Regions from separate parts of the Homo sapiens genome. Here region 2 is linked to region 1. The links come from fine-mapping of genetic effects on gene expression. Tissue or cell type: whole blood. Region 1 holds a variant in brackets; the other region holds the start of a gene. All regions are shown on one strand. Distances are from middle to middle.

Evidence for each region. PIP is the estimated chance that this variant, and not a neighbour inherited with it, causes the effect.
Region 2: CRIP3 starts here. The variant in region 1 is fine-mapped to the expression of CRIP3 in whole blood (TOPMed, PIP above 0.99).

The regions. Positions count from the first base shown.
Region 1 is chr6:43,415,487-43,420,801 of GRCh38, reverse strand. It overlaps LOC105375065 (a long non-coding RNA gene), which reads right to left. Exons shown (of 6, transcript XR_007059585.1): 5 at 3,361-3,493. Among named protein-coding and RNA genes, the nearest start is that of ABCC10, 9.4 kb to the left of the region's middle. The variant G/A (reference allele first, on the strand shown) is at 3,258.
Region 2 is chr6:43,305,929-43,310,928 of GRCh38, reverse strand. It overlaps CRIP3 (cysteine rich protein 3), which reads left to right and starts at 2,103. Exons shown (of 8, transcript NM_206922.3): 1 at 2,103-2,179; 2 at 2,520-2,614; 3 at 3,033-3,090; 4 at 3,186-3,317; 5 at 4,412-4,483; 6 at 4,616-4,710; 7 at 4,805-4,862. The coding sequence starts at 2,137. It also overlaps the pseudogene RPL12P47. RefSeq lists an enhancer at 2,586-3,443.

The DNA of each region.
Region 1 (5,315 bases):
AGCACACGCTGTTGGAAAAATGATGCTGATAGACTTGCCCAACACCAGGTTGCCACAAACCTTCTATTTGTAAAAATGTAATCTGCAAAGTGCAATAAAGCGAGATGCAGGTGAATGAGTTATGCCTGCATATATTTGAAATTTTTTCACAATAAAGTTTTTAAAAATGGAGATTTGCAGAATATGGAATAGTGTGTTTCAAAGAGTGGTCTATATAGCATTTGCTTTGGAGTCACCTGAGCTGCTTATTAAAATGCAGATTCCAAAGTCCACTCTAGACCTGCTGAATAAGACTCTCTAGGAGAGGATCCTACAATCTGCAGTTGGGTGATTCTTGCACTCAGGTTTAAGCACCACAGATGTCAAGAGCCTTGCCGAGGATTATAGAACTAGTACACATCACAGCACATGTTCTAGATCAGGATCCGCAATACCCAATCCACACCCTTAACACAAGGCCTCATGGTCTAAATTGAATCAGGAACCTCCCTCAAGACTTTTTACTTGAACTACTGTCAAGTACTAAAATATATTATTTTACATTAATAACCTTTTGATTATAATTGCAATACCCTCAGCACTCCTTGCCTATCGCCTTGTAAGATGTGCCTTTGCTCCTCCTTCACCTTCCACCATGATTGTGAGGCCTCCCCAGCTATGTGGAATTGTGAGTCCATTAAACCTCTTTTCCTTTATAAATTACCCAGTCGTGGGTATGTCTTGAAAATGTAGAAATGAAGAAAAGTATGAAGAAAAATTTAAAATCCTTAGAGACACAGTTAGCTAACTGCTAAATTTCAAGCAAGAGCTAACTAGGTGGGGAGACATTATTCAGGGGTACCCCTAACAACCCATCACTTTCTGACTGCTTTCACCATCTACCCCTGCAGTGAATCCTGTGCCTACCATTCCTCTTGGCACTGAGAGCAAGGCAGATGGATCCAAAATCATTATTCTTCTCATTAAATCTTTGGATGTGTCTTCTCACTCACAGACACCCTCTTGACCACAGAATTGCACACACATCAAATGCAGATATGCACATGTGTCCCTGATGTAACTCACAAAATCTAACATTCATACTTATATATTTTTTAGTCCAGCACAGATGCTAACCACTTTTTTTTTCTCTCTGTGCCAAGGTTCTATCTTTTCCTTCTTCCACCTAATTTTCCAGGCTTCAGAGCATGTTGGGGCTTTCAGGTCCCCAGTAAGAATTGTAAGTTATATAATCACTCCTAGTCTGGAAAGCTGATGGGCAGGCAGGTTAATTTAAGAGCTCTAGTTTAACCCAAGAAAATAAGAAAGTTAGAAAAAATAAACTTTTTTTTTCTTTTTTGAGACGGAGTCTCACTCTGTTGCCCAGGCTGGAGTACAATGGCACAATCTCAACTCACCGCAACCTCCGCCTCCTGGGTTCAAGTGATTCTCCTGCCTCAGCCTCCCGAGTAGCTGGGATTATAGGCACACGCCACCACACCTGGCTAATTTTTGTGTTTTTGGTAGAGACGGAGTTTCATCATGTTGGCCAGGCTGGTCTCGAACTCCTGACCTCAGGTGATCCACCCTCCTCAGCCTCCCTTTCTCTTCTTAGTCATTAAAAACCATGGCTATGGCTGGGCACAGTGCCTCACACCTGTATTCCCAGAACTTTGGGAGGCCAAGGTGGGTGGATCACCTGAGGTCAGGAGTTCAAGACCAGTCTGACCAACATAGAGAAACCCGCGTCTACTAAAAATACAAAATTAGCTGGGCATGGTTGCGCATGCCTGTAATCCCAGCTACTCGGGAGGCTGAGGCAGAAGAATGGCTTGAACCCAGGAGTTGGAGGTTTTGGTGAGCTGAGATGGCGCCATTGCACTCCAGCCTGGGCAACAAGAGCAAAACTCCGTCTCAACAACAACAACAACAACAAACAAAAACAAAAACAAACAAAACCCATGGCCGCCTGGCTGACTGGGTAAGCAGCTACTTGCAAGTTTTAGCTACTGTACACAAATACATCATCCTACTACAGAGGTCTGCCCTAAAGTGTATGTGTGGGTTTTTGTTGTTGTTGTTGTTGTTGTTTGGTTTGGTTTTGGTTTTGGTTTGAGACAGGGTCTTTCTCTATGCATCAAGGCTGGAATGTAGTGCCATGATCATGGCTCACCGTAGCCTCCACCTCCTGTGCTCAAGCGATCCTCCTGCCTCAGCCTCCCAAGTATCTGGGACAGTTAAAGTGTGTTTCACTGCATGTATACAGCTGGATGAGGTAAAGTTAAGTCAGAGGACAAGAGGACTCTTTAGAGAGTCCACTTCTGAAAGGAGGGTTAAAGGGACAGATAATGCTTCTGTCAAGGATTCCTCTTCCTCCCTTTCACCCCAAGCTGGTGCTCAGGTGGGGAGGACCCTAGTCTTACCAGCCCTCTGAAGTAGGTGGGAGAGGATGTGGTCCCCTCATTTTATTCTTTCTTTCTTTCTTTCCTTCCTTCCTTCCTTCCTTCCTTCCTTCCTTCCTTCCTTCCTTCCTTCCTTCCTTCCTTTCTTTCTTTCTTTCTTTCTTTCTTTCTTTCTTTCTTTCTTTCTTTCTTTCTTTCTTTCTTTAGGGAAAGAGGGAATGGGATGCCAGAAGCCTATAGCCCACCCAAATACTAACCAGGCACAACCCTGCTTAGCTTCCAAGATCAGACAAGATTGCGTGTTTTCAGGGTGGTATGGCCATAGACCTCTTATTTTCATAACGTTCCAGAGTCCTTATTTTTGATAAGAAGTTTGGCAAAGGAGTCATGCCATCAGTAGGATCCTTTCTGATGGTTACAAATAACCAACTAATTAATATTTGCCCAGGACATAAAGGAGGAAAGATAATTTAAAACAAATAATTCCTCAACATCATATGGCATTGCATCTACACATTTCACATTTTCCAGGTTAAAAAATAAAAATAAATGAAAACAATATCATATGGCCCTTTAGTTTCACCCAGTTTCCCAGAGACCTTTACACCATAGTTTCTGAAAAATGAGTCAAAGGTACAAGTTTGTCTCCTTCCTTCCACTTTGGGGAATTGGGGAATTGTTGGTAAGTGAAGTAACACCTAGGTGGGAAGAAGAGGAAATCATTGGTCACAAGATAATTCACAGTCCATAAAGTGGAAGGATGACCAAATTCTCCAAAACCTGGGTGGCCAAAGAAAGATTCTATTAATACAACTTTGAAAACTGACTTCAAACTCATTACACCCAGATCTGACGTGAACTGAGTGTGGATGCCCA[G/A]ATGCTTGGAGTAGAGGTGGGCAGAGATGGCAGGAGTGGAGGTGGGCAGGTTCAGTGGAGTGCCTAGGAGGTAGTGGGAGGTAAGGGAAGGAAGCAGAAGTACCTTGAGGAATGATGAAGAGTCCTCACAGCACGATGGCTTTCCAAGGCAGTAGGTCCTGACTTCCAGCTCCCCTCTTGGCTTACTTTCTCCTTTCTGCCCATACTTTTCTCTACAGTTATCAGAAGCTGATTATCTGGAAGGCAAGGGGACAAGTGTAGCTAGAGCTGGGGCTGGGCAAGTCCACTGCCACTCGGCCAGGTCACCATTTTTTGAACATCTTCATTGAGATATAATTCACAAACCATAGAATTTACCCCTTTAAAGTGTAAAATTCAGTGACTTTTTAGTACATTCAGATTTATGCAACCGTCATCATATACATATTTTTTTAAGATAGAGTCTTATTGTTGCCCAGTCTGGAGTGCAGTGGTGTGATCTTGACTCACTGCAGCTGCCACCTCCCGGGTTCAAGTGATTCTCCTGACTCAGCCTCCTGAGTAGCTAGGACTACAGGCGCACACCACCATGCCCAGCTAATTTTTTTTTTTTTTTTTTTTTGGTAGAGATGGTGTTTCGCCATGTTGGCCAGACTGGTCTCGAACTCTTTTTTTTTTTTTGAGACGGAATCTCGCTCTGTCGCCCAGGCTGGAGTGCAGTGGCGCGATCTCTGCTCACTGCAAGCTCCGCCTCCCGGGTTCACGCCTTTCTCCTGCCTCAGCCTCCCAAGTAGCTGGGACTACAGGTGCCTGCCACCACGTCCAGATAATTTTTTGTATTTTTAGTAGAGACGGGGTTTCACCGTGTTAACCAGGATAGTCTCGATCTCCTGACCTCGTGATCCGCCTGTCTCAGCCTCCCAAAGTGCTGGGGTTACAGGCGTGAGCCACCGCACCTGGCCCTCGAACTCTTGACCTCAGATGATCTGCCTGCCTTGGCCTCTCAAAGTGCTGGGATTACAGGCCTGAGCTACCAAGCCCAGCCCATAATTAATTTGAGAAGATTTTCATCACTCCCTAAAAAATCTCCATACCTATTAGCAATTAGTCCCCGTTTCAACCCACCTGCCGCAGTGCTTGGCAACCATGAATACACTTTTCTGTATCTATAGATTTTCTTGCCTATACTGAACATTTCATGTAAATGGAATCATACACGTGTGTCCTTTTGCATCTGGCTTTGTTCACTTAGCATGTTTTCAAGGTTCATCCATGTTGTGGCATGTGTCAGTACTTCATTTTAACACTGAATAGTATTTCTTTGTACAGATATACTGCACTTGATTTTCCATTTATCAGTTGATGAACATTCATGTTTCTACTTTTTAGTTATTATGAATAATGTTGCTATAAGTTATTCAGGTACAAGGTTTTTGTGGATATAGGATTTCTTTCTTTTTTTTTTTTTTTTTTTTTTGCAGCTAGGAGTGCAATTGCTGGGCCACATGGTAACTCCAATTTTAACATTTTGAAGAGCTACCAAACTGTTTTGCAAAGTGACAGCAGCATTTTGAAATCCCAGCAGCAGCTGGGCATGGTGGCTTATGCCTTTAATCCCAGAACTTTGGGAGGCTGAGGCAGGAGGATTGCTTGAGCTCAGAAGTTCAAGACCAGCCTGGGCAACAAAGCAAGACCTGGTCTCTACAAAACAAAACAAAACAATATATAGATAGATAGATAAATAAAATACATATATATTTATATATACAGTAATCAATACATACACACACACACACACACACACACACACATATATGGCCAGGCGTGGTGGTGCACACTTGTAGTCCCAGCTACTCAAGATGCTGAGGCAAGAGAATTGCTTCAGCCCAGGAGTTCAAGGCTGCAGTGAGCTATGATGGCACCATTGCACTCCAACCTGGGCGACAGAGTGAGACCTTGTCTCACAAATAAAATAAAATAAAATCCCACCAGCAATGTATACAGGTTCCAATTTCTTTATATCCTCACTGACACCTATTGTTTGAGTTTTTATTATACCCATTATAGTGGGTGGGTAGT
Region 2 (5,000 bases), 110 kb after region 1:
ATTCATGTACAAGTTTTTGTATAGACATATGTTTTCATTTCTCTTATATACCTGGGTATAAACCTGGAAGTGGAATTGCTGAGTCATATGGTAACTCTATGTTTAACTTTTTGAGGAACTGCCAGACTGTTGTCCAATGTGGCCACACCATTTTATGTTGCCACCAACAATGTATGAGGGATCCAATTTTGCCACATTCTTGCCAATATTTGTCTCTTTAATTATAACCATCCTAGTCAGTATAAAATGGTATCTCATTGTGGTCCTAATTTGCATTTCCCTAATGACTATTGATATTCAGCATCTCTTCATGTGCTTATTGGCCATTTGTGTATCTCTAGAAAAACATCTATTCAAATACTTTGCTCACTTTTAATTGGGTTGTCTTTTTGTTATTGCATTATAAGTTATTTATATAATCTGGTTACTAGATCCTTATCAGATTTGCAAATATTTCTTCCATTCTCTGGATTTAAATTTCTTGAAATATCCTTTGAAGCACTATTGAACTACTTTTTTTTTTTTCCACCAGTTGTCAAATGATCCTTTATTGAAATATTTTCCTTTGTGCTTAACTGGCTGGGCATTCCACAGAACCACTGTTGATATCATCTATGATGTCATGAGGGTGGCGGCCATCAACATTACAGCCCACAGACTGGGCAGTCCCCAGGATCTCTTTAATGGTGCCAGAGAGTCTATTGAACTACTTTTAACAAATATTTATCTGGGCATGGGGGCATATACCTGTAATCCCAGCACTTAGGGAGGCCCAGGCAGGTGGATCGCTTGAGCCCAGAAATTCGAGACCAGCCTGGGCAACATGGCAAAACCCCATCTCTACAAAAAATACAAAAATTAGCCAGGTGTGGTGGCATGTGTCTGTAGTCCCAGCTACTCCAGAGGCTAAAGTGAGAGGATCGCTTGAGCCGGGCAGGTGGAGACTGCAGTGAGCTACGATGCACCACTACATTCCAGCCTGGGCAACAGAGACCCTGCCTCAAATAAATACATTCATTAAAAACACAAATATTTAAAAATTTTAAAGCAAACCAGATTAGAAATGTGTAGTTGGTTTTCATTTTTATTTATTTATTTATTTTGAGATGGAGTCTCGCTCTTGTCCCCCAGGCTGGAGTACAGTGGTGCGATCTCGGCTCACTGCAACCTCCACACCTCCCGGTTCATGCGATTCTCCTGCCTCAGCCTCCCGAGTAGCTGAGATTACAGGCATGCGCCACCACGCCCAGCTAATTTTTGTATTTTTAGTAGAGACGCAGTTTCGCCTCGATGGCCAGGCTGGTCTTGGACTCCTGACCTCAGGCGATCCGCCCACCTTGGCCTCCCAAAGTGCTGGGATTACAGGTGTCAGCCACTGTGTCCAGCCACCCTACAGCTTTAGGAGTAAACGATTGTATACAGACCATGTTCTGAGGCTTCCAAACCGAGTCTTGAGTTCATTAAGGGATCCATCATAGTGATAGCTATAGCTGTTACAGCGTTTACATGCCAGGCGCTGTTTGGGCACTCTACATGTATTAACCTATTTAACTCTCATAACAATCCTATGAGGCAGAGACTGTTATCATACTCATTGCACAGATGAGAAAATGGAGGCAGAGAGGGAGGTTCAGTAATTTGCCTGAAGTCAAAGAGTAGGGTACCAGAGACGGGCTCCAGATTTTGTTGCTTTCAACCACTTGCTATACTGCCAAGGTGGAATTTTGCATTTCAAAGAATGCCTACTCCCTCGCTTTGGAGAGAGTAGTGTTTTAATGATGTCTGCACTGTGGACATTTTTCCTGTCCTTACCGCTCCAGAAACTAGTAGAGCTCCCTGTCCAGGTGTCTTCGTTACACATGTGCCTTCCTAGTCTGGAGTCCACGGCTTCAAGATCCTCTCTCCTCCCCGTGGGTCTGACCGAGGCTTTAATGCTCTTTGAAGTAACAGCGAAATAGCCCTTTGTCTCCCAAGTGGAGTGGTTCTAAATTTCTGATAACCAATGAGCGCCGAGGAACCGCGGATTCCGCCCAGGGAGGCTCAAAGCTGAGCCGTGGGTGGAGCCTGCGGAGGGGGCGGAACTGAGCCGCAGCGGCGTACCTACTGTGTGCCGCGTGCGCTGCCTGGAGCGGAGCTATGAGCTGGACCTGTCCGCGTTGCCAGCAACCTGTTTTCTTCGGTGAGGCCCGGGCTGCGGAGGGGGAGAAGATGGGGCGAATGGGAGCCGCTGGATTCCCTGAGGACGCGGAGGGCTAGCCACAGTGTAGTCCCAGACACCCTTTTCACCTGCAGCGGCTGGTAGTCTCCGCACCACCCGCTCCCACTCGGGTCTTCTCCCTTCCTCTGAGAGCTCTGTGGGGAGTGTGAAACCGGAGCGGGATGGAGCTGGCCTCCTGGAGACACTCATCTCCAGGAAGCAGGGCAGGCCAACCTAATTCCCTAGAGGGCCGAAGAGGGAAAGGAGGGGCCCTATGCTTGGACAGGCTCCTCGCAGCTCGGTTCCACTTTGTCCTCCACAGCTGAGAAGGTGAGCTCCCTGGGCAAGAACTGGCACCGCTTCTGCCTGAAATGTGAGCGCTGCCACAGCATCCTGTCCCCTGGCGGGCATGCAGAGGTAAGACCTGGCCAGGGAGCACTGCCCTGTTTACATCACTGCCTCCCACCCCCCAGGCACCAGCCCCCAACTTCAGCACTGGAGGCCTGCCAAAGGGAACCTCAGTAGCCAACCCCAAGGCCGCCCACCTGGTGGACCCCACACCAGCCAGGAATTTGGGAACCTGGGTCGTGACTGTGGATCCCATGGTTTTGGGGATCAGGGTGAGTGGGAAGCAGCGTCACCTTCTGAGCTGCTCTTGCTCTTCCTCCCTTGACCACAGTGGAAATGCTGGCATGCCAGCCCATCCCCCACCCCTCCCAGGCCCACCAGACTCAGCCAGTGGACAGACACACCTGGCAGCCTGTCTGGGGTGAAGGCCTGTGGGGCATGGCTCCCGCTGGCCTTGAGTAACCCACTTCCCTCTGCTTGTGCCCAGCACAATGGGAGGCCATACTGCCACAAGCCATGCTATGGGGCTCTCTTTGGACCCAGGGGTAAGTACCAGCCTTAAGGGGCCATGGGTCAGCAGAACCCTCCTTGTGGCTGGGAGCTGGGGGCTCAAGCCTGACCTCCCCTATTCTCTCTTCAGGGGTGAACATTGGTGGTGTAGGCTCCTACTTGTACAATCCCCCCACTCCCAGCCCTGGCTGCACCACTCCTCTCAGCCCCAGCAGCTTCAGCCCTCCCAGGCCAAGGACTGGCCTCCCCCAAGGCAAGAAAAGTAAGGCTGGGCTCAGCTCCTCCCAGTCCTCCTCCCGACCCTTCCCCAAGCTGGAGCGGAGGTTGGGCCAGGTGGCAGTCTCCTATCCAGCCCTCTGCTTCACATTCTCACAACTTCATTCTTGGCAAAGTCTTCTCTATCTACTCCCCGCTTTTTTTTTCTTTCTTTCTTTCTATTCCCTCATGTGAGCTGCTGAGTTAAGAGGTAAATTGTTGGGAGGCCGAGGCAGGTGGATCATGAGGTCAGGAGTTCGAGACCAGCCTGGCCAGCATGGTGAAATCCCATCTCTACTAAAAATACAAAAATTAGCCAGGTGTGGTGGCTCATGCCTGTAATCCCAGCTACTTGGGAGGCTGAGGCAGGAGAATCATTTGAACCCAGGAGGCGGAGGTTGCAGTGAGTCAAGGTCATGCCATTGCACTCCAGCCTGGGCAACAGAGCGAGACTCCATCTCAAAAAAAAAAAAAAAAAAAAAAAAAGAGGTTAATTGGGCAGATGGCATTATCCCCTCTCCTCGTGTGTTACAGGTGAGGAAAGTGAGATCCAGACAGGGCAAATGACTGTCCATCCACAAAGCTAGTCAGAGGCAAAGCTGGCCAGGAACTTAGGTCTGTCCCAGGCCAGGGCCATGGAAGGAATGATCTAAAGGAGAGGAGTCATTGGGATAAGGCCAGCCTCTCATATTCTTCAACTTTTCTCCTCTGGTCCCTGTTCTTTCCCTCCATTCCCTGAAGTAGGCAATGACACTGTGCTCCCCAACACCTGACACCCGTGCTGTGGCCAGCTCCTATATCAGCTCAAGTTTCCTGAGGATTGAGTTGCTAACAGGGTTGGGATGGTGGGTACGTGAGCCCCTGGGAGGATGAAAAGGAAGCAGGAGAAGGAAGCAGATAGTCCCTAATACACATAGGGATGGGGCAGGAGGTGGAGTCAGAGGGGGCTCAGCTCTGGGCCTGTAGAAGGCAGACTCTTGGGCGCCTGGGTGGGGCACTCTGGAATGAGCATGGCTTTTGAAAGAGGACAGCACCATATGCAGGCAGGTGCTGGTGGGCATCTCCACCTCAGACATAGCCAGGGCCTCTTCCCCTTTAAAGGCCCTCCCCATATGAAGACATTCACTGGGGAGACCTCGCTGTGCCCTGGCTGTGGGGAGCCCGTCTATTTTGGTAAGTAACAGTGGAAAACTTGGGGAGGGGGATACAGGGTGGGCAGCAAGGGGGAGGGAGGTGATCCAAGGCAGGTAGGTCTCCCTACTCTACCCCTAGAATGGAAGCATTACCACTTCTTTCCACCACCAGCTGAGAAGGTGATGTCATTAGGCAGAAATTGGCACCGACCGTGTCTGAGGTGCCAGCGTTGCCACAAGACCCTGACTGCTGGGAGTCATGCTGAGGTGAGCAGGGCAGGAATGAGTGGTTATGTTGGGAGGAGGCTGGAGATGGGAAGAGAACCAGGCTGAGACAGCTCTCTTTCTCTCTGTGTCTCAGCATGATGGAGTCCCCTACTGCCACGTCCCCTGCTACGGCTACCTGTTTGGCCCCAAAGGTGGGCAGCCCCATCCCAGACACTGGGATGGCATGTACATGCCTGAAGTATGGCATGTACATGGTCTGTGGGTATGTGTGGACAACTTCCCCTGTGGTTAAGCATACCCTGGCCCCCCCACCAAGTTCCCTCTAGGCC